Linked DNA regions of Homo sapiens. The protein of the gene in region 1 purifies or fractionates together with the protein of each later gene. This does not show direct contact. Each region holds a gene or a part of one and is shown on either strand. Other genes may lie near its edges.

The links.
Region 2: the proteins of ARHGAP24 (region 1) and DDX50 purify together in Homo sapiens (affinity purification with mass spectrometry, with the first as the bait; 2 studies listed by BioGRID). This does not show direct contact.

What each region holds. Positions count from the first base shown.
Region 1 is NC_000004.12:85,466,616-85,482,997, reverse strand, and holds the start of ARHGAP24 (rho GTPase-activating protein 24), read right to left. Parts: upstream 7,849-16,382; 5' UTR 7,439-7,848; intron 1-7,438. UniProt on the Homo sapiens protein: Rho GTPase-activating protein involved in cell polarity, cell morphology and cytoskeletal organization. Acts as a GTPase activator for the Rac-type GTPase by converting it to an inactive GDP-bound state.
Region 2 is NC_000010.11:68,904,315-68,911,314, reverse strand, and holds part of DDX50 (ATP-dependent RNA helicase DDX50), read right to left. Parts: intron 5,046-7,000; exon of another isoform or gene 4,978-5,045; intron 4,605-4,977; coding exon 4,308-4,604; intron 3,405-4,307; exon of another isoform or gene 3,345-3,404; intron 1,009-3,344; coding exon 933-1,008; intron 248-932; coding exon 69-247; intron 1-68. UniProt on the Homo sapiens protein: ATP-dependent RNA helicase that may play a role in various aspects of RNA metabolism including pre-mRNA splicing or ribosomal RNA production.

The DNA.
Region 1 (16,382 bases):
ACCTCCCCAAGGTTGCAGGGCTTAAGCATATCAGAGCCAGGTTAGAATGTAGGTCTAATTCCAGAGCATAACAGTTAAAGGTTGCTCTCTTGGAGTGAGATACTTTAATTTGAATCCCAGATCTACCACATAGTGGCTGTGTGATTTTTGGCAAGCTACTAAGCCTCTCTAGGTTTTGGTTTTTCCATCTATAAGAGAGAGATAGGGCTCATGTAGGAACTGTGAGGATTAAATGAGATAACCTATGACAAGCACAGGGCCAAACTAGCACATAGTAAGGCTTCAATCATTGTTATCTATTCTTACATAGGAATGGCATTCTTAATTGTCACATCAAACATTGTCTCCTTTCCCTTTCCCTTGGCTTTTAGTTCCCGGTACTGTCTCTGGATTTGCCTTTTCTCCTGATTTCTTGGCTTCTGGCACTTGTTATCCTGTGACCTTGCTTCTGCCCCTCCCCCTTTCATCCTCCCTCGGCAGCTTGACCTGTTGTGCAGGGGTTCTCAGAGCTCCTCATGAGGCAGTTCCCATGGCTTCTACCTGTCTCCAGGCACAAAGACCCCAGCTCCTCCTTGGAATCCACCAACCTTACCTAATCTTATAGGTACTGAAAAGTTATCCCACGATGAAAGCATAAGTTGTCACCAATAAATGAAGTCTCCAATCAACAAATTATTTAGAAATGTGAGAAAGCAGAGATCTGCTGTATAACACATATATGATGTTATATAAAATCATCAACATTTCACTTGACGATTTCACAATGACAAACCATAATGGGAAGTGAAAACCAAAATGACACTGAAGGTAGTATTTTTGTGGCTAATCCTGGGTTTACACAGTTAGGTTGCAAGAAGATAACATCAGGCTGTTTTAACTCCCCCGGATCATATTTTCTTGCTGGAAGCTTCTCCATATAAGAAAATTTTAAACCAGATAGTTCCAACAAAATGAAACAATCAAAGATGACTCTTCAAGGTAGCTGTAGAATTCTCTTCTCTAGGTATCTCCTCAAACAGGAGTGAGATGCACTCCCATAATTCCTCTAATAATTGCCCTTCTCTGAGAAAGACTGGCTTTGAAATCCCATTCCCTGTAGCTCATTTTACTTCTGCGTGCCCAGTGAGTACTAACACTACTAACCCAACTTTTCTTCTTTTCTCAGTTGCTATCTCCCCAAAGAAATCATCCTTTTTTGTTTTATTTCAGCTTTCCCAAGCTGGGGCTCTATTCTTAAACTGGGGACCACTTGCCTCCTCTTTGCCTCCACCTGTTGCTCACAGTGCTCCCAGGACGTATGTCCCCATGTCATGGAATGAAGTAATGGATATAGATTACTGGATCTCTGTGGACCACACCTTTCCTGTTCACTTCTCACCAGAAAATAGTCTGGTTAGGCTAATCACTATAGATTGATTCAGTTACTGGCCTATGGTAGATGGAGCCTCTTTTCTCACTAGCCAACCTTGGTAGTGGTAACCCATCCCACAGGTCCCAACTCATCAGCACTAGGATGCTGTCATCTAGAAGACCTGCAAGAGAGCTCCAAGGCCAGTTCATGAGAATCATATTGAGATCAGGATCTATCCTACATGCCAAACCCATGAAATACACAGTTTATTATTTGAAAATTCATAATTGAAAAGCACTGAGAGGAAAGGGACATAGTAAATATGTCAGGGTATTTGGACTTATGCAGATGTGGTTTTGATGTTCAAGTCTACATTACCTTGGGTAACTTTATTTACCTCTCTGAGCCTAAACATCCCCATACAATAGTCATAAAAATATCTGGATTAAATATAACATAGATTACATCTAGAATTACTAATTCTAATTACTACTAAAATCAGAAGTAATGTATGTAAAAATATCTCATGGAGTACTTGGTACGTAGAAGAAGTACTTAATTCTTTAGGATGATTATTATTATGAGAGTCTTAGATTCAAGGAGAGGGAAAAAAACTCAAGACAAAATGAAAGTTATATTCTCCCTTTTTGGAGAATTTGAAAAATTACTTTATTTTCTGAAGGCTCAATTTGATGGTTTGAAAACAGCCCTAATTACAGCTCCATCAGCCTCAATTTTTTGATAGATTCAATTTGTAAGAAAAAACAAAAGGTTTTCTCTTACCCTTCTCAGCGACATCCCTAAGGGAATTCTTCTATACATCTGTGATACACATATTGAAAAGAACTCATGTTTGGCCTTAGTATCTACTTTCAAAGTTACTAAAATGTGATTTTTTTCCTACATTTTTTAAAAAATGTAGCATTTGGAAGAAAGGTCATTTTATCTATCAGGGATTATAAAAGCACTACAGAGAATGTTTCAAGGAACTACAAAAAATGACCTAGAAAACAATTATTGGTTCCAAAAAACTAAAGCCATACCATGCAAATTTATAAATATTTAACTAATTGTATCAAGAAAAAAACGTGATGTAACTATTCAATCTGTTTTCATCATGGATTTAACTTAGCTTAATTAGCTTAGTACACTTGTGGGTATCATAAGGGTATTAAAAGTGACAATAAGATGATGTGAACCATGTCATACAAAAAGCTTGACTGGCGTACAATTGAGCATCAAATTTAGTTCAGAGTTTTTTGGGTGACAAGTCAAACTGAGAAGCATGGTGAATTTTTAGCCTGTCTTTTTTCTAACCAAAAAAACCCACTAGTTAATCAGAAGAGATATACTTTAAAAAATTCCTAGCAGTCTAGGCAAAAAGGAATTTATCATGGAAATCCTTATATAAAGAATTTGAAACGCATAACATAAGGTGCCAAGATATTTCTTTCCTTTTCAGCTCATCTCTTTTATATTGACTCTCAGTAGTTAAAAAGGGGGGGTATCATATTAAAGCATAGTGTAATAAAGACATTTTGACATTTTAACAAAAAAGTATTGTAATGTGATTATAGTAAGTACATTTCCAGTTATGTAATTTGATATAGATAGAGAGTTTAGAAAACTTAGAGCAATTAGCGATTGGACTATTATTCTTAAATATCAGTGATAGTAGTTCCAGGCTTTTCAGAGATGCTGAATAAGGAGGAACTTGAGCTTTCAATCCCTGGCTATACCCTGAACCACACGTATGAATTCTTGATCAAAATACGTATTATCCACGTGCTAACTGGCAGTATGCACATGACAAAGGTAACATTGCTCTGAAAATAAAATAAGCCCATATGTATTTTAGTCTAAACAGTGTGTAAGCCCCTTTCTACATATTAGCAAAAATAACTGCAGACAAAGAATTTTTTTCAGGAAGAAACTTTGGATTTGCCTCAGTGCTCAAATGAGATGAAAGGAAAATCAATACAATAAAGAAACTATAACATGAAAGAAGCTGCCCCTCTAAATTTCCTCTTCTCCATCCAGCTCCACATTCTCCTTTAATTAATTTCCCTCAAGCACCAGCACTCCAGATAATTATTAAATAGCCAAAATTAGTGTTTCTATTTTATTTGATTAATTAAGACTATTGCCCATTCAATAAGCAGGATCTCCAAATTTAACTTCATTATTAGTCTTCACAGCCAAATCCAGGACCTCCCACTTGGATTTCACAGATTACAGATTTTATAGTACAATATAAAACACAGTTGTGGAAAATGTATATCTATTATAATTGTTTCTATTTTCTTTAAACTCAAGTGTATTTTGTGATGTCCAAAAGAAAAAGATGATTTCACAGTAGTTTTTGTTTGTTTTGCTTTTGCTTTAGATATGCAAAAGCACAATATTTCATCTATTATAGAGATTAAATAGGCATGTGTGGGGTGGTATGGAAAGTGGATTATGTTTTGTAGCATTGTTATATTTGGAAAATGAACTCTAAGACCAAATAGACATTTTTTAAATGGACTTCTGAGATATAACTATCTTCATAAGTTGGAGTGCACCAGTATTTCATTTATTGACGACTTCACTTGCCCACTTATTGGGGAAACATTAACAGATGTGTACTATGTTTCCAACACTGGGCTGGGGGCTTGAATTCAGGTGGCTCCCCCACCACCAATCTACCCAGTGAGGAACTCACAGTAGTTGTGAGAGAGGACAGGGGAAATACATAAAAATTATTGCAACAATTATTCAAAGTATGTTCAAAATGCTATAGAAGCAGACAAGATGAAATGATTAATTCTTCACGGAATTGGGTAAGTTTTCCCGAAGGAAGTTCCACTGGAAGTGAGCCACCAAGAATCAAGAGGGACTTTCAGACAGAAGGCATTCCAGGAGAATGAATCCATGAACCAGAGATCAGAAGCCTGAACAGTGAGGAGACCTTGTACACAAAGGGGGAGCTAAAAAGAAAGGGCTTGGAAGAGCTTTTAGAAACTATACTAAAGAGTTTAAATATTGTAAGTCATTGGAATCCAACAAAGGTTTTAGATAAAGAGACTTACACAGTTAGATCTGACTTTGTAAAGATTAACTGTAGCAATGCCACAGTGGAGTGTAGATGCTGCTTTTTTGCACAAATGTACACAATAACCACTGAAAACTGAATATTCTTTGATTCTTCATCACAATAATCCCTCCACTTCCAAATGTGCTTGTACTTAGCTGCTGAAGCCATCAGAACCTTGTAAAGTTTGAGTTTGTATAGCAAAGACAGATGGGTTACCATTGCGAGACTCGATGTGAGGCTTCCACTCTTCACATGAAGAACATTAACTTCATGGCTAAGCTGACCATTTAACAACTGTATTTTTAAATATCTTTCTGTATCTGGGAGAGATCTTAGTCCTTTAGCCATGGCTTTAAGAGCAAACAGGCATCGTTCCATTTTAAATATCTTCTGCTTTTTCCTCTATAAAATGTGATCAGTGAAGAATGGATGTCTCAGGCTCTTGTTATCACCAACCTCCTCCACACCCACATGTAACCAATTGGGTGGCTGTCCCTTGTTACTGGGCTCCAGACTGAGACTCTACCTACCTTCCCCATCTTGTTTTTCCAAAGCACCCACTTGTACCAGAAACTGAAACATGGCAGAAAGAAGGAATCAGCATGACATAGCTCAATTCATGAGAAAAGAACCCTTCACTGCTGGTCAGAAAATTCACAGGAAAATAACTACAAGCGACTAAGACGGTGCTACAGCACCACACACACTAAGAACAGGAAACAAACGCACGGCCTGAACTGTACAGTAGCACCGCTTGCTTTCAGCCCTGAGAAACCAACCCAGACTTTAATCGAGCCGGAAAGAAAACACTCGTCAATGGGCCAGTAGGTCACAGTGAAAATATTAAGGGAACTGTTGGTAAACACCAACAGGGCTTTGGCTAAGACAGCAAAGTAATCATACTCGGACTACTCATCACCACCTGTTGCACATTCCTCACCCTTCCTGCCCACTCCTTACCCTTCACCCTGCAGAGTCCAAGATCACACAGTAAATAAAACCATGATCCATGAAAGCTCTCAGAGCTTTGGCCATTACTATCCCCAGCAAAAGCTGAAAGGATTTCCCTGGGGATTTCACCCAAAAACACTTTTACACTTAAATCTATGTTCTAGTCTGGAAGAATGCATTGCCATTTGTTCTGCAGTGGATTTTTTTCTAGATAACTTAATTCTTTCCCACTTCTTATCAGGCTTATATTTTCAAAATAGTTCAGATTCAGGGTATGTAAGGCACAGAAGAATATTACAGAGAAACCACCTCATCTCAAATCCAAACCCCTGAGATGAAGTAATAAAACCAAGTAATATAGTTGAAAGCCAAGGACAGTCTGAGTTTCAACAGCCCCTCCACATGCAGAAAGAATTACCGATTATTTTTCCTAGTACCATACCTCTTTTATATTCCTTCCAAATACCTCAAACTAAATTCCAGATCTGAAAAACTCAGTTTATCTCTTATCCCCACTTAAAGGTCTTCCACCAAGAATATACTGCCTGTGAATGGTAGGATGTTATTTATTTCAGAGTTTTGTCAATATTTCCGTCCTCCAAGATGTCAAAGGTGAAGTCTCTGACCACTAAGTAATGGCTCTAGAGAGAACAGATTTCTGGACTTGCTACCTGAAGGCCAGGCAGTCAGGGAAGATAAAATGGTAACTTTTATTACTGAGCTCTCTTACAAGTTGAAATATGCCCAGAAAAGAGGAAGAATTAAGAAATTTAAAAGGGGGAGTGAGATCTTCACAAGTCTGATGTGACTTTATGGCTGTTTTCTGGCTTTTTCTAATACATACATTCTGTGTGTTTTATTTTACAATGCCCAGTTCAATAGCGTCATCCATTTTTGCCCTGAAGGATTGGTTTTGAGTTCTAATTGGAACTGGGGACAGATTGTTTGTATTTAATCCGTCTGTACATCTTCTACTCAGTAACTGAGTAAAGCTCTTAAACTCTACTGCAAATATCCCTGGATTCCAATGAATTTGTCTTACTTAGTAGACATAGCAACACATATTGTTTTATTTATGTATTTATGTATAAGCAAAGCCTTAACAACTTTTATATTCCAAATACTCAGCACGATTTATTTATTTCCTTTTTAGAAAGAGATGAAACAATGATGCCGTGGAAGGTTAAAAAAAGAGTAACATAAAATGTGCTGGAAACAGAAATTACTTGGAGAAATTACTTGTTTAATTCAAATGAATTAAACGAGATATAGTCTACAAAGAAGTCTGGGCTCCCTATTACTGGTTGATGCTGAAAATCTATCTAAGGAATTCAGAGTAACATTGTCTCCCTTCTATTTGGGTACGTATAAAATAAATGTAGTCTTAAGTATTTTCTAAAAACGAGACCATATTACATGTTTATCATTAAATGTTATTTTTAAAAACATTTGGACAAAATCTTTTGAGTGGCTTCAAATTCACCAAAGATTCCCTAACGTTTTGTGTTTACAAATATATGTATATATTTTATAATATATATTTCTAATATGTAATATATTTATAAATATTTTAAAACATATTTTATACATATAAAATATATATTTTTGCAAATATATATGCTTATTATTAAAACCTATCTTTGTGCGCCTGTTACATAGGGAACTCCTATAAGATACTAGAGGAAACAAACAAGGGGAAGGGGAGGATGGATACCAAGAGAGGAAATTGAATTGTACAAAGGGTTTTTATTAATTCCATCTATTTTTAAAGCCAGAAAGACATACTACCAGCTTGCTGTCTCCCGGCACAAACATGCGCGCGCGCGCACACACACACACAAACACAGACAGGCTACATCAGCACGGGATTCCTGCGATCCCTCCCCGCCCCCCGCAGCCCCCTCCCCGCCCCCCGCAGCCCCCTCCCCGCCCCCCGCAGCCCCCTCCCCGCCCCCCGCAGCCCCCTCCCCGCCCCCCGCAGCCCCCTCCCCTGGCGCAGGCAGCCGCGTCCGTCCTTCCCGCGGTAGCTCCGCGCACTTCCTCGCGACCGCATCACCTACCTTGCTGGGAGCTCAAGACAGATGCCGGACAGGGCTGCTGCTCCGAAGGAAAAGGCTCCCAGGACCAGCAGTAAGAAAACGCAAAGAAAAAAAGGTGGTAGTGAGGCTCCTTTACTTTCCACAACAAGGGGAAGTGTTGAACTCTATGCACTGGGCTGCTCCGCAGCGCGGGTTTCGGAGGAAATAGGCGGCCGAGAGAGCTGCGCCTGCGATGGGAAGTTGGGGGGATTCCCCCAGCCACCCAGCCACCCCCGCCAGGCTCCTCTCTGGTCCCCGCCGCAGCCTTGACAGCTCCCCTGGTCTCCGAGCCCCTCCAGAGCCCTGCTGGTTTCCACCCGGAGCTGGGCTGTGTTGCCACATGCACTTGAGAAATCCTAGCAGTTGCGCAAAGAGTCCCAGAAGTTAGAAAGGGTGATTGTGTGTGAATGTGTAAATATACAGTACAAGAGGCTGGAACAACTGAGTGGGGCCAACCCTCAGACACAGCTCGAGGTTTCAGATTTCATTTGGCAACTGGTAGCTTCACAGGACTCGAGCCGCACTACAGGGGAGGCCGGCAGGAGCCCCGCCCTCCCAAAGCCTGGGTTATCTGAGAGCTGGAGCTACACCGCCTGGCGCCACTGACAGAATGCGCCCTGCCTGGTTCCTCCGCATCTGGCATCGCTCGTTCCTTTCAAGTGCATCATAGATACTTGTTGGCCACAGATCTGGGGCTGTGGGCGCGAGAAGGTTGGTGAATACATGTCTCCTGCCCTCAAGGAGCTCTGCATTTCATTGGCCAAACCCCATACACCGGTTTTACTTGCTTCTACCAACTCTGTCTCGCTAACATTTTATTTCTCCAATTAGAATTACCTGGGCCATTAAAGCAATATTCCTGGAAATGCACATTTAGATGGATGCTCTCTAACTAGAGCCTTAGAGAAATTCAAAGTATAATTACTTTCTTACGGTGGTGTAAGAACTCTCGGAGTTACACAATATGGGACAAAAGGACAAACTAGTAAACATTGTTTTGATGCAGGCCGTCTCTTCCCACCATCACCACAATGTCTGTTTCAAATTGTGATCTTACAGTTCTGGTTACCTGGCATGCTGAGTCAAATTATTTCAAAAAGCTTTGTAAAGATCTCTGTTTTAGAAACCCACTTACAGTGGATCAGTCATGCAATCCTAGCACTTTGGAAGGCTGAGGCAGGAGGATCGCTTGAGCCCAGGGGTTTCAGACCAAAATTGGCAACATAATGAGACTCCTGTCTCTATAAAAAAAAAATTAAAAAAATAAAAAAAAAGTTGGGCGTGGCGGCGTATGTCTGTAGTCCCAGCTACTCAGGAGGCTGAAGCGGGAAAATCCCTTGAGCCCAGGAGGTCAAGGCTGCAGTGAGCTATAATTGTGCCAGCGCACTCCAGCCTAGGTGACGGAGTGACACCCCCGTCTCGAACAATTACTACTGCTACTACTAATAAAAGAAACTCTCTTTTAGAAATCATCACCAGATATCCTTAAGACACAGAATGGGGGTGTCCTCACTAGGGATCTCCAGTGAGAGAGGGATATGGAAGAAGAGCAAATGTTTAGTTTTAGAAACACCAAAAATAAAAGGCTGAGTGGACACTGATATGTTTTTCCTTTTTGTCCTCTTTCTCCAAGTTCTTGGAGAAACGAATCTACCCCATCCCATGCTGAGGTCCTACTATAAACTTGATTTTCTGGTGGGAGAATTCTCAGCCCTTTAATGAATCAAATTAATTTGTGTGGGGAAAAAATTGCGTTTCATATTTCATTTTAAAAATATGTATGGAATTCCTAAGCTAGAAGTAATGTAGCTTATTTTCCAATTGGTGGGAATAAATTACCTTCATCAACCCACATGGCCTTACATGTTCTAGCAACACCCTAGCAGGTGAATGCTGATGGGCAGTTTCAGATGAAAGCTGGAAAATAACATTAACCCAAATGAAATTTGCACACATTTGATGGACTCAAAAGCCTCAGGAAGACAAGTACCAATAATTATGATTCAAGATGGGGACATTTAAAAAAACAAGGAAACTGTCATGTCAGTAATTTATTTCAGGGTCTAACAAATATTACCACAGCAGTTTAGTCTCAAAGTGATACAAAACTGAACTCAGGGTGGTTACTGGGTAGTCCCTAGTCCAAAAGATTAAGACACACCTCTAATACACACACAGGCTGTGTTCAAGGCCTTTTCCTTCCCATCTTCTGGTTCTGTCTCCACCCTTTCCAACTGATAGCACTTCATTGGTGTGTGTGATATATGTGATTATCTTAAGCTAGAAAGTACAACAGAAGGAGAGGATGGTTGTCACTTGGGGATTAGACAGTTGAGAGGATAGGAAAGGAGTTATATCCACCAATACAAGCCCCTTCTTCCCCTCCTACTTAGAAAGAGGTGGACCATTGCATTCCTTTTCTAGAAGCCCCTCAGCAAGGAGTCTGTTCCAAGAGAATATAACCTGAACTAGAAACTGCGTTGTTTTCTGGCCTCTGACTATACTGCTCCTCTCTTATTGTAGATTAGTTGGGACCAAGAGACATTCCTTATACGTATTGTGGCATCTTTAAAGGAGAGAATAAACTCTTGAACAAGACCCTTGAAACCTGATTCTAATCAGAGGAGAATGCTGATGTGACTGATACAGACTCCAGGGAGGTGGTGCCTGACATTCAGCTCACTGGATCTCTGCTCAGAACTTGCCCAGAGGGTTACTTAAAGCTGAGTTTTATCAGTCAACCTCAATTCTGAGTTAAAGGTGTGCTTCAAACAAACTCTACAAAACCCAGAAATGATTCAAGGATAAGGGCTAACTTTCCAGGATCTTCAGGTCCTAGACACCTTCAGGAAAAAAGTCTATGAAAGGTCAGTATAATGGCAGGCAGAGTTTGAAGGACTTCAGTGTTTACAGGAAGGATGTATAATACTTTAGGACCGGGGGATTCCAGAGATCTAGAAATGAAAGCAGAGGAGGAGAGAAGGAAGATAATGGCTATACTACATCTGGACAAGTTGTTTGAGTGTTGGTATTGCCAGAGTCAAGGAAAGAAACCCCCTCCATAGACAAAGCCCCCTGGACACTGATTCTATCAGGCCATTCTTTCAATGGAATTTAGTTAGGGAAACCTCAGCCAGTGTTTCTACAATTACTTTGTCTAATATTTAAAGTATATGGGTCAAATGTTACTATTAAATGAGTATGGATTAAAATGTATTTTAATGTACTTCACTAACTTAAAAATTGCAAAGTTTTTCACCAGATTCCATGTCAGATTCTTTGAAAACCTTAGCATAGAGTGATTCATTGTCATATTACCCAATTGTCCATTAATATCAGATACTGAAGCTTTTTAATTACATTTTCTTTTAAGAAAACATAAATTCCTAAGAGGGCAAAAAACACAGTAACAAAACTGAATAGTCAAGAATTGCCAAAATCCTAACATTTTCAACAAGCTCTCACCAACAATGCAGAATTTGTGTGGGTACTGGGATTTGCCAACATCTGATTTCAGGATTCAGATAGAAGGCTATGCCTTTTAAAGCATGTCTGTTTCTAAACATCTGTTCTTGTTTTTTCTTTTTATTTCCTGGTAGAAGTTTCTTTTCTACAAAGTCCAGCTTTGTCTGAATTACTAAGTAAGGTGGAAAGAGATTAAGGGAGCTTTGTGCCCACCCTCTCCAACACTTTGGATCACATGATTCAGGGAAAGATGTATTATTATTGTTAAAATGGTGGGGAAGGATCAATCCAGCTAAATACCTGTAAATAAGATAATAAAGGAGAGAAAGAGCATGATAGAAAAATAAGCTGTGGCCATGGGTCATCCATGGCCTCTATAATTCCAACACATGCCTTCTAACAGTCAACAGCTTTATAAATGAAACACATTATGTGCCCATTCAGATCCTGAGAGGAGTGTGGTATCAACCGTCACCACACTTTCTTTGAATTGACATATTTTTGGGTCACACTCTTTCATCTACCAGACCCCCAAAGTAGATGGTTCCAAAAATATCAATGATTAAATTTACTTTCTAAGTACTGTCTATTGGTTTTTGTCTAATTACAAAATTAATTAGTTCAACTCATGAAACTTGGAAGCTACAGAGAAGCTTAAAAGAAGAGATTTAAAACTGCCCATGATCTCCCCACTTAGAGATAAGTAATAACATTTTGAATATGTTGAATAAGTCCAATTGTTTTTTTTACCTCTGTGTATGTGCCTATTTTGTATAATGATTTGGATCATGTTACTAACCAAAGCAAGATCCTTTTGGCCTGGGCCCAAATTCAAACCTTAGTTTCCAATCAAGATGTTCCTTTTTGAGACAGTGTCTCACTCTGTCCACGGGCTGGAGTGCAATGGCCCCATCTCAATTCAATGCAGCCTCAACCTCCCAGGCTCAAGGGATCCTCCCACCTCAGCTTCCTGAGTAGGTGGGACCACAGGCACGCACCACAAAGCGTACATAATTTTTAATTTATTTTGTAGAGATGGAGTCTCCACAAGTTACCCAGGTCTCAAACTTCTGGGCTCAAGCGTCCTCCTGTCTCGGTCTGCCAAAGTGCTGGGCTTACAGGCATAAGTCACTGCTCCCGGTCTCAGAATGCTTCTTTTTATGCTGTTTAAACCTAACTTCAGGAATTTGCTGGATTCTGTTAAAGAATTAATCTCGGCCGGGCGCGGTGGCTCATGCCTGTAATCCCAGCACTTTGGGAGGCCGAGACGGGCGGATCACGAGGTCAGGAGATTGAGACCGTCCTGGCAAACACGGTGAAACCCCCTGTCTACTAAAAATACAAAAAATTAGCCGGGCGTGGTGGCGGGCGCCTGTAGTCCCAGCTACTTGGGAGGCTGAGGCAACAGAATGGCGTGAACCTGGGAGGCGGAGAGATCGCACCTCTGCACTCCAGTCTAGGTGACAGAGCGAGACTCCATCTCAAAAAAAAAAAAAAAAAAAGAATCTCTCGCTTTCATGATATGCAGATTTTTCTCCAATCAGCTCCCAGAGAAACTTTCTGCTTTATACCTGCTGTGGTCATTTCTAAATCCCTTACTAGTCTAGAATTTCCTTGTGCTTTGCTGACTCACAATTTCTCTAAGACAACCTTTAATATGCAGTCATTCACATTTTAGCTCACCACATTCTCTATCCTTTCTCTACTCCCTTATAAGTACAGGCATATGTGTGTGCACGCACACACACACACCATGAACATTCATATCACACATGCATACTCATAAAGTGAAATATTTCTCCAGACATGCAATTGTTCACTTATGGACTCAACTCTTAGTGTAATACTGAATGACATTTAAAATATTTAGAAATCTAATTGCACCTGAGCAGCAACAAAGTGGGCTTACTCTGACTACACATGCCATTTTGTAGATTTCAAGCATGTTCACATTTTGGAATCTTTTCTTTTCAGTTTTTTAGAAAATTAAATACTGCCATTGAAATAACACCATTCTTCTCCCAAGAATCATTATATAGTATTCCTAAGTTACATGTGTGACTTTTAAAATAGCTTCCTATTCCCTTATACTCAGGATAATAGAAAGCAAGTTACCAATAGGTTCTTCACATTCATAATTCATGTTTCTAATTGCATTGTCATGTATATTCCAAACCTTATCATCTGTCTGGGAAATCCTCATTTCGTCCTATTTTCATCATATCCCAAGCTCTTTAAATAATGGATTTTTTTGGCATCAGTTCCATTCTTTCCCTCTCTCCATTGCCTGCTTTATCTCATCTCAGATAATTTAAAATTAAAGAGAAGAACATTTACCTCATTGTACATTCTTACCCCACTGATAAAAGAATACACAGTCAAGATACAAATCTAAGCTGTTAAAACTGTTAAAGAACTCAGATCCCAGGCATAACTGATCCCATTGTTGATCAAACGTTAGATTTGATCAATATTTGGATTGCTGACTAGAAAATTGGAGCTGAGGTCATTGTTTTAAGTCATCTAAAACCAACTAGATTGTCAAGAAGATTAAAATGTTTTATTGTTATAGAGTGCAGACAGGACCATCAACTTACTCAATTATCTTCCGTAAAAACTAGATAAGAGAGTGTAAATGAATCAATATAACTCATCCAAACATATTAATAATGATAATAATAAAATAAGAAGAATATTCCTTATGGTTATTAATGTGCCTTTCCCATATGTGGTCTTTATTGCAGCAGCTATGAGAAATTTATCCTTATTTTCACTTTGCAGAAGAGAGAACAAAGAGAAACATTGTATATATCTTATTCACAATCATATAAGCTAATAAATGATGGAGAAAAGATTTGAATTTAGGCTATTCAAGTACAAAGTCTGGATTCTTTTCACTGATGTATCAGCAACAGCATCTCCCTATGCAAATAGAGACAGCACAATTTCCCTTTCATATATCACTTATATTGGCCAAGTGTTTGAAAATAATTATTATTACATTATTTTGTGAGGAGGAAGATTGTTGTTCTCCTACAGACCAATTTTAAATCCCACTTAAAGTATTAATTTTAATGTCCTACACTATCAGATCCTTTATTCAAGTTACTAACCAATAGCAAAATTAACTGTTCTTCTTCTTATTCCAACCAGTAGCAAAATTAACTGTTTTTTTCTTCGTGCTCACCATCTGTGAGAGGTGCTAATGGACAGTGAATTGGCCAAAAAGCCAAGGGGAGTATCAGCAAGTGGAATAGTAAGTGGTTCGGATAATTCATGAACTTGAAAATTAGTCCCTCAATACTGAGTGTTGTATTCAAAATCTTAAAACTAAGATCTTGAAGGGAAACTAAAATAAAAATTTTGAAATTATAAGCTTGGTTTTTTAAGACATAGTAAAGATAGGCTGAGGCTGATTATGTAAGAAGTAGTGTTGGGGATAACTAGTTCCTTAATATTTGAAAAATGACCAAACATAAACTTCCTGGAAAATCAATAAAAATAATGGAATTTTTGAAAGATTTTCAAAATAAACTAGGAGGATATTCCAAGAAGATAAATGTTAAAGGAAAGTTCAAGATGTGGGCTATTATGCAGATAAAATAGGACTACAAAATTATTGTCCTCTCCTTTTCTTTTCTTTTCTTTTCCCGAGTTTGTGTTTGAAAATGAGAGCAAGCAAGCTTTGTGAAGGCTTACTTTGCAAGAATGGCGAGCTTAGGCCGGATTGTAAGATGAGACTCAACTGGGGCTCAGGCTGGGGAGGGCAAATGGTAGCATTTCTAAATGCTGAGCAGTTTGTCTTGATGTCTTCAATGGAAGACTTTCTTCAACCTTGTGTACTTTACTCAAGAATAGACAGGTGAGTAAAAGAGGCTTCTAAATGGTGATCATGAGGAATAGTAGTCCCAAGAGTTGGAAATGGAGGCTCTTGAACTTCAGCCTAAGACACTGATGCATTTTAAAGAAAAATAGTCCTTTTGGATAGGACATTAGATGATTCCATTCAAATGTTCTCTGACTCAAACTGGGGGAAAATAATTCCAAATTCAAGAAAGGGAACTGTGGCTCGGTGTAGTGTTGCTGTAGTCCCCACTACTTGGGAGGCTGAGGTGGGAGGATCACTGGAATGCAAGAGTTTGAGGCTGCAGTGAGCTATGATTGTACCACTGCACTCCAGCCTGGGTGACAGAGTGAGACCCTGTTTCTTAAAAAAAAAGAAAAGAAAGAAAAGGGATTGAAAAATCAAAGGACAGAGAATGAGACCACCTTTTGGGTAACCTAATAATTTTAATAGTGTTATAGAGAAAGCTTCTCTGAACTGGGTTGGGGCATGGCAGTGCCCAGCATCTGTAGAAGCAATCAGCAGCAAGATCAATCCCAGCTGTTCCTTCAGGTTCAATCCTGCTGCAGGTGAGGGCTATGAGGTAAGGGAGCAGATAGCAGCACTGAGATCTGTGATGACTTCCAGGGAGAAGACATAAGCTACTCAGTACTCTGTGAGAGAAAGCTTAATTGGATGGGGATTTCCATCATTCCTGCTAGTTGGAGACTTGGAGCTTAAAGTCTAAAGCCTAGACTTTAACCAGTTCATACACATTCATTATTAAGGTAAAGTTCTCCCATATTCCTGTTTAAGGTTTTTTAAACTTCTGTCAATACTCAAGTACTATCACAAAGAATTAGAAGCACATAGGGGAAGTAGTTAAGCCCAATAATGGTAATTTCATAAAGCAGAAGCATATTGGGAGAAATTAGCAAATTCAGGAAAGTAGCTGGTTGTCATATACAGAGATGCCTCACTTACACAGGCACAAAAGTGTGTAATACCTCCTAAATGTGAGGCCCAGCGCTAGATGCAAAGTCAATTCAGATTTGTCTGTGTTTTCAAGAAATTTACATTCAATCATTAAGAATGGGTGAACAAAAAAGATTTAAAGTGAATTTTCCATTTTCCTCTAAGGTAATGCAGAAACGATGTTGCAATATGAACATTTATTCTTAGCTAACATCTAGCCTCTGAAAGTTACTAGCATCATTTTCACAGCAAACAAAAGACTTACTTCTTATACGGTAATGTTATATCATTATTTTAGACAGACTCCAGCTAAGACTTTAAACAGTATGTGAAGATATTTTGACATATTTTACATTTTTGCTCATTTGTTGTTTCAATTATCAACACATTGCTATAAAAACCAGAAGACAATGGCATAGTTAATATGAAAATTTCCCATGTAGGTTTTTCTTGGCATCCATTGCACAGAATCTCTGGTTTTGAACTGTGCAATTAAGAAAAAAACACTCTTTTATAAGTAAAGACGGAAATCTAATGATAGTATCAAATCTTCCGAAAATCAGTTTACAAACATTAAAATAATTTCTGGATTGAGCATTCCACTAAGAAAGCCTAACACAACAACAAAAATCTTTTATTTTAACATTGAGCTTTAATTGCTTA
Region 2 (7,000 bases), on another chromosome or scaffold:
ACTCGTGTAACTTTCTTTCCCTTTCTGTTAGAGTAACATTTAAAGCTTTTACCCCCTATAACGATTACCTTTGGTGAGCGGCTTTTTTTAATTGTTTCTTGATTTCTTTGGAGTCTTTCAATTAAGGGGATGGCAAAAGAGAATGTCTTTCCTGTTCCTGTCCGTGCTTGAGCTATTAAATCTTTTCCTTCATATACAGGACCAAAGGTCTTAACTTGAATAGGAAAGAGATATGTTACCCCTCGACCTGTAAAATGAGATTTAATTAAAATACTTCTTTACGACTAGCATTAGGAAAAAATATATTCATTTGAAAATGACAATCATAATTCTTCTATGTCTGCCTAAAGACATGCCACCTGGTGACACAGTTATTCCTACCACAAACAAGCATTACTAAAAAATTAGTCTAAACTTTTGACGAATGCATATAAATCTTAAAGCTAAAAACAAGGCAGAATATTGAAAAGGATGATGTAAAAGTAAGTGCAATTAAAGAAGAGCTACTTCTCTATGCTTTTTATGTTCTCCTTTTGGTCAGAAAAGGCACAGGAGTTTTACAAAATCTAGTGATAGATTTTTAATTGCATATCCATTAAAACTGCAAACCTTTGGGCCAGCCGTGGTGGCTCACGCCTGTAATCCCAGCACTTTGGTAACCCAACTGGAACAGATCAGGAGGTCAGGAGTTTGAGACCAGCCTGACCAACACAGTGAAACTGCGTCTCTACTAAAAATATGAAACTTAGCCGGGCATGGTGGCACACGCCTATAATCCCAACTACTCAGCAGGCTGAGGTAGGAGAATCGCTTGAACCCAGGAGGCGGAGGTTGCAGTGAGCCAAGACTGCCCCACTGCACTCCAGCCTGGGCAACAGAGCGAGGCTCTGTCTCAAAACAACAACAATAACAACAACAACCAAACTGCATACCTTTCAGAAGCTTTATAGTCTCTTCAGAAATAGGAAAATTGGAGAAGGCTCCTTCTTTCTGTTCACGTGTTAAGGTCTGTAAAAATGAAATCAATGGCCTAAATAATTTATACTCAACTCTTCCTCATTTACTGTTTTTAATTTTTTACAGATTAACTTACAAGGAAAATTAGTGGAACACTTTTTTTTTTTTTTTGAAACAGGGTCCCACTCTGTTGCCCAGGTTGGAGTGCAGTGGCACCATCACAGCTCACTGTGGCCTCAACCTCCGGGCTCAAATCCTACCAACCTCAGCCTCCCAAGCAGCTAGGACCACAGGCGCATGCCACCATGCTCACTTAGTTTTTTATTTTTTGTAGAGACAGGGTCTCACCATGTTATCCAGGCAGATCTTAAACTCCTGGCCTCAAGAGATCCTCCTGGCCAGGTGCGGTGGCTCATGCCCGTAATCCCAGCACTTTGGGAGGCCAAGGCAGGTGGATCATGTGAGGTCAGGAGTTCAAGACCAGCCTGACCAACATGGAGAAACCCTGTCTCTACTAACAATACAAAATTAGCCAGGCATGGTGGCGCATGCCTGTAATCCCAGCTACTCGGGAGGCTGAGGCAGGATAATTGCTTGAACCCAGGAGGCAGAGGTTGTAGTGAGCCGAGATTGCACCATGGCACTCCAGCCGGGGCAACAAGAGCGAAACTCTGTCTCAAAAGAAGAACAAGAAAAAAAAAAAGATCCTCCTACCTTGGCCTCCAAACTGCTGGGATTACAAGCATAAGCCATTATGCCCAGCCAAAAAGGTTATTTATTCATCTAAATCATACAGATGTAGACAAAATTATAAAGATTAACACAAGCCTATAAACTAAGCTAAAAGAAAGTATATAATGAGGAATGTAAAGTTTTTCTGAAAATAAGTTAAAAATTTATTCTACAGCGTTTGAAAGCTTATTTAGGTTGCTAATACAAGAGAAAGTTACCGTAAGCTTGAAGATTTCTTTAACATATATACAAGTTACCATGAGATTATCATTTAACATTTATTGAAAACTTTGTATACTAATGTGCACATAGAACAAAAACAGTGTGTCTACCCAGTAAGCTTTATTGTTCATGTGTTTAAAGAAACACACACTAACAATTTTCAAACTTGGAATTAGATAAAAAATAATTTCAAATTCAAATGGCATGCCATTTAAACAAACTTCAATGCTGCTGTTACCTTTTTATGATAAAAAAAATTATAAAAATAATACACTGTCGGCCAGGCGTGGTGGCTCATGCCTGTAATTCCAGCATTTTGGGAGGCCAAGGTGGTAGGATCACTTAAGCCCAGGAGTTCAAGACTAGCCTGAGCAATACAGTGAGACCTTGTCTCTATAAAAAACAAACAAACAAACAAAAATAAACAATACACTGTCATTGTAGAAACTTTTGAAACTGGCAGAGCCCAGTGGTTTATGTCTGTAATCCCAGCACTTTGGGAGGCCAAGGTGGGTGGATTACTTGAGCCCAGGAGTTCAAGACCAGTCTGGGCAACATAGTGAATGAAACACCATTTCTCCCAAAAATACACAAATTAGCCAGGCATGGTGCTACACGCCTATAGTCCCAGCTACTCAGGAGGCTGAGGTGGGAGGATCACCTGAGCCCAGGGAGGATGAGGCTGCAGTGAGCCATGATCACACCACTGCACTCCATCCTAGGTGACAGAGTGAGACCCCATCTCAAAAAAAAAAAAAAAAAAAAAGGAAATTTTAAAAACTACAGAGGAAACAGAAACAAATTTAAAAATTATTTATAATCCACTCAGCTAAAGCCATATTTGAAACATACTCCTCCAGTCTTCACTCTATGCACATAAAATTTTTTAAATAGAAATAAAATCACACTGTATATACCATTTTATAATCTTTTTTTTTTTTTTTTTTTTTTTGAGATGGAGTTTCGCTCTTGTTGACCAGGCTGGAGTGCAATGGTGCAATCTCGGCTCACTGCAACCTCCACTTCCCAGGTTCAAGCGATTCTCCTGCCTCAGCCTCCCAAGTAGCTGGGATTACAGGCATGCGCCACCACACCCAACTAATTTTTTTGTATTTAGTAGAGACAGGTTTCACCATGTCGGTCAGGCTGGTCTTGGAACTCCTGATCTCAGGTGATCCACCTGCCTCAGCCTCCCAAAGTGCTGGGATTACAGGCGTGAGCCACTGCGCCCAGCCTATTTTTTTCTTTTAACAAGATACAATGACTACCTTTTCTATTGTACACCCTTTGGGATAGCTGTATTCTATTATACAGCTATAGTATGTTTTATTTAAACCAAATGTCTACTATCAGACATTTAGGATGTTTAAATATTTTCCTATTATCAACAATATTACTATGATAAGAGTACTTATTCATACAGCTCTGCACACCTCTTCATCATCTCCTTAGGATAAATTCCTTTAAGTAGAATTCCTGAACTCTCATGTGATCTAAACAAAATAATAAACTGTTAAACCTATTATAATACAGATTTTACCAGGCAAAATCCCACCAAAGTGAGAAGCAAGCCATACATTCCACTGCTAGAAATACAGATTTAAAGGACCTTATTTAGATCAACAAACACATGTGCTTCCTGCCAAACAGCAAATTCACAAATTAAAAAAAAAAAGGCCATAACACAAGGATTCAACACTTTTCCCCAAAGATTATGCATTAAGCTCAAATGTATATGAATATCAGCAATTATCGTATTTATATAATATAAAGAATTACTAATTATCAGCCCAGTGTGGTGGCTCATGCCTGTAATCCCAGCAATTTGGGAAGCCGAGACAGGTGGATCACTTTGAGGTCAGGAGTTCAAGACCAGCCTGATCAACATGGAGAAACACCGTCTCTACTAAAAATACAAAAATTTGCCAGGCATGGTGGTGCGTGCCCGTAATCCCAGCTACTTGAGAGGCTGACTCAGGAGAATCGCTTCAACCCGGGAGGCAGAGGTTGCCATGAGCTGAGATTGTGCCATTCCAGTCCAGCCTGAGAAACAGAGAGAGACTCTGACTCAAAAAAAAAAAAAAAAGAAAAAAGAAAAGAAATTCAAGTAGATAACCATCAAGCAATTCCGAATAACTTTAGGAACCCAAATGTACAGAAAAGGTTTAAATTTAACTATTGCTCCCACCTCGCCCCAAGAAAAAGGCCATACAGTGAAATAAACAAGGGCCAAAGGAAAAAAGGCTCAGGCTTCACCTGTACAGACTCTAGTGCAACTAAGAATACTAGACACTAATCAAGAAATGTTATAGAATCAATTCTAATTAGCCTAAAAAAATTCAAATCAACCTATAGTTCAACAACAATGTCAAATGCAAAATAAAAAGCTTCCATACCTCCTCTAGTTTATTATCACTTGATTTATGAGTAGAAGTATCTAAAGATGATACTCGCTTTGATTTTTTTTCATATTCATCTATATCTCCATTTGGTAGATCTTTTCTTCTTGACTTATGAGATTTGGAGAATTCATCTGAAAGTCTATTAAATCCTTCTTCAGTGTCTCCATTTAGCTTCTCTTTCATTTTAGATTTTTTGGCCTTGGGAGCATCCAGGTCATCTGTAACACCATTTTCTCTTGTTTCTGATTTCTCATCCGAGTCATAATGGTGCCTTGACTTCCTTCTGTCACTCTGTGAACAAACAAAGAAGCAATGACAAGATGGTCAGAGGTTTTCTTTTAAGACTCTAGAGAAGTTAGAGCATGACTCCCCCACCAGTTCAGCTCAATCTACAGTTACTTTGAAAACCTGCCTGGTAGAAATCCAGACTGCTTACTAATGCCAAGCTCTAAGCCTCAACTGTTGCTATCTTTCTCATCCCCTTCCTAGCATTCTCAAGACTCAGCCTCTAGCCCCTCTCTAATCCCATCATAAGATTTAAGGAAAATTAAAACGGTTTCTCCTCAGGGAAAGAAAGACAACCCCAGAATTATAAATTACTAAACAAGCAAAAACTTCCAACATTTCCAAGAGAAAAAAAAATTAATACTTATTGAATACCTACCCAGCACTGTGTAATGTGTTTTCAGCTTATCTTGTTTAAATCTTCATAACAACCCTATAAGGGAAGTACAGGTCCATAATCCCTTATCCGAAATTGCGATATCCATAAAGCTCTGAAAACCGAAAGTTTTTTTTGTAACTTATTTGGAGGCAAAACCTTACCTGAACTCATTTGATGGCAAAATTTAACTTGAACTAACGTGAGGCTCTTTATAGTCTTCATTTATCCTGCTTAGTATGACCACTCATATTTAATATTAAGGTGTTTGATTACAGGTTTCAGGCCCCAAACCCTACCGGGGTGCTACCTTTCTAAAAATCCCCAGAATTCTGAATTCCAAAATACAACTAGTTCCAAGGATTTTGGATAAGGGATAGTGAACCTGTATTACCTTTGCCATTTTATTTAATTATTTATTTATTTTTGAGATAGAGTTTTGCTCTGTCACCCAGGCTGGAGTGCAGTGGCGCAATCTTGGCTCACTACAGCCTCCGCCTCCCGGGTTCAAGTGATTCTCCTGCCTCAGTCTTCCAAGTAGCTGGGACTACAGGCATACGCCACCATGCCCAGCTAAATTTTTGTATTTTTAGTAGAAACGAGGTTTCACCCTGTTGGCCAGACTGGTCTCAAACTCCTGACCTCAGGTGATCCACCAGCCTCGGCCTCCCAAAGTGGTGGGATTACAGGCGTGAGCCACTGTGCCCAGCCACCTTTGCCATTTTATAGACAAGGAAACAGAAGTTGTAAGAGGTTAAGCAACTTGCCAAAGATCCACATGTGGGATTTCCTGCAGCTATAAGTACTAGAAACTGAATCTAGCACTGCCTGACTTGAAAGCCCATTCTCTTTTCACATTATGCTTCCTCCCTGCACTTTGACAATTCACAGGCTAAAGGAAAACAAAAAGAAACTATATAATTCATATAGAAGTCCAATTGTTATACTTCCACGGAAGGACAGTAATCCTGGATTTTTTTTTTTTTTTTACGTTTTAAATTCAGTTAATTTTTTTAAAAAACACTATTTTTCAACTTCAATTTTAAAATCTCAAACTAGTGGCCAGTGTTGTGATATTTACAGAACACAATAAATGATTTGGGAATTTAGGACTTTAGCCTGGTGGCTAGCCGTGGTGGTTCACGCCTATAATCCCAGCACTCTGGGGGGGCGAGGTTGGGCGGATCACCTGAGGTCAGGAGTTCAAGACCAGCCTGGCCAACATGGGGAAACCCCGTCTCTACAAAAATACAAAAGTTAGCTGCATGTTGTGGTACACGCCTGTAATCTCGGCCACTCTCAAAAAAATGAATTACCTGGTCAAATATTCAAAATAGATAGCAGTAATTAGTGATAGTAAAAACTACTACCACCAAAATGTTCACCATAACTTACACAACTTTTAGAGTTATTTCACATATAATTTTCTCATCCATAAAATTGGAATTGCTGTGAGAATTGAACAATATGTGTGAAAATGCTTTGCAGTTACACATTACATCATATGATCTGCAGTTAACTACACTAGACCACATCTTTCCAAACCAATAGGTTCTACAGAAAAATAAGATTATTTATCGATTCAGCCTTGGGGCTTGAATTGCTTCTGGGCCCTGCACTACAGAGAGAAGTTGAAGCAAGGCAAAAGGAGACCTCTCGGTCTAAGCCCAGTAACATCTCAAGGTGATTAAATAAATAATTCCACTTTAGACCCACAATGCTTGGCACTCTCCGTCTACTTGGTTTCAGTTACACTTTATATTCCCTTCTTACCTCTATCTTCTTACCTCTACCACATATCTTCTTCAATGGTTCCTCTCCTTCCTCCTCCAGTGGATGCTCCTTGAGTATCTGTTCTCTATGTTCACTTTTAGTACTATTTTCATGGCTCAATACGTACTTCCAGACTCCCTTCCTCACCTACATTCCAACTCTAAGAATCTAAGCACCAGCTCCATATCTCAACACGTCCGAACCAAAGTTATCCTCACCTCAATACCAGACCACTATTCACTTCAGTTTTGTT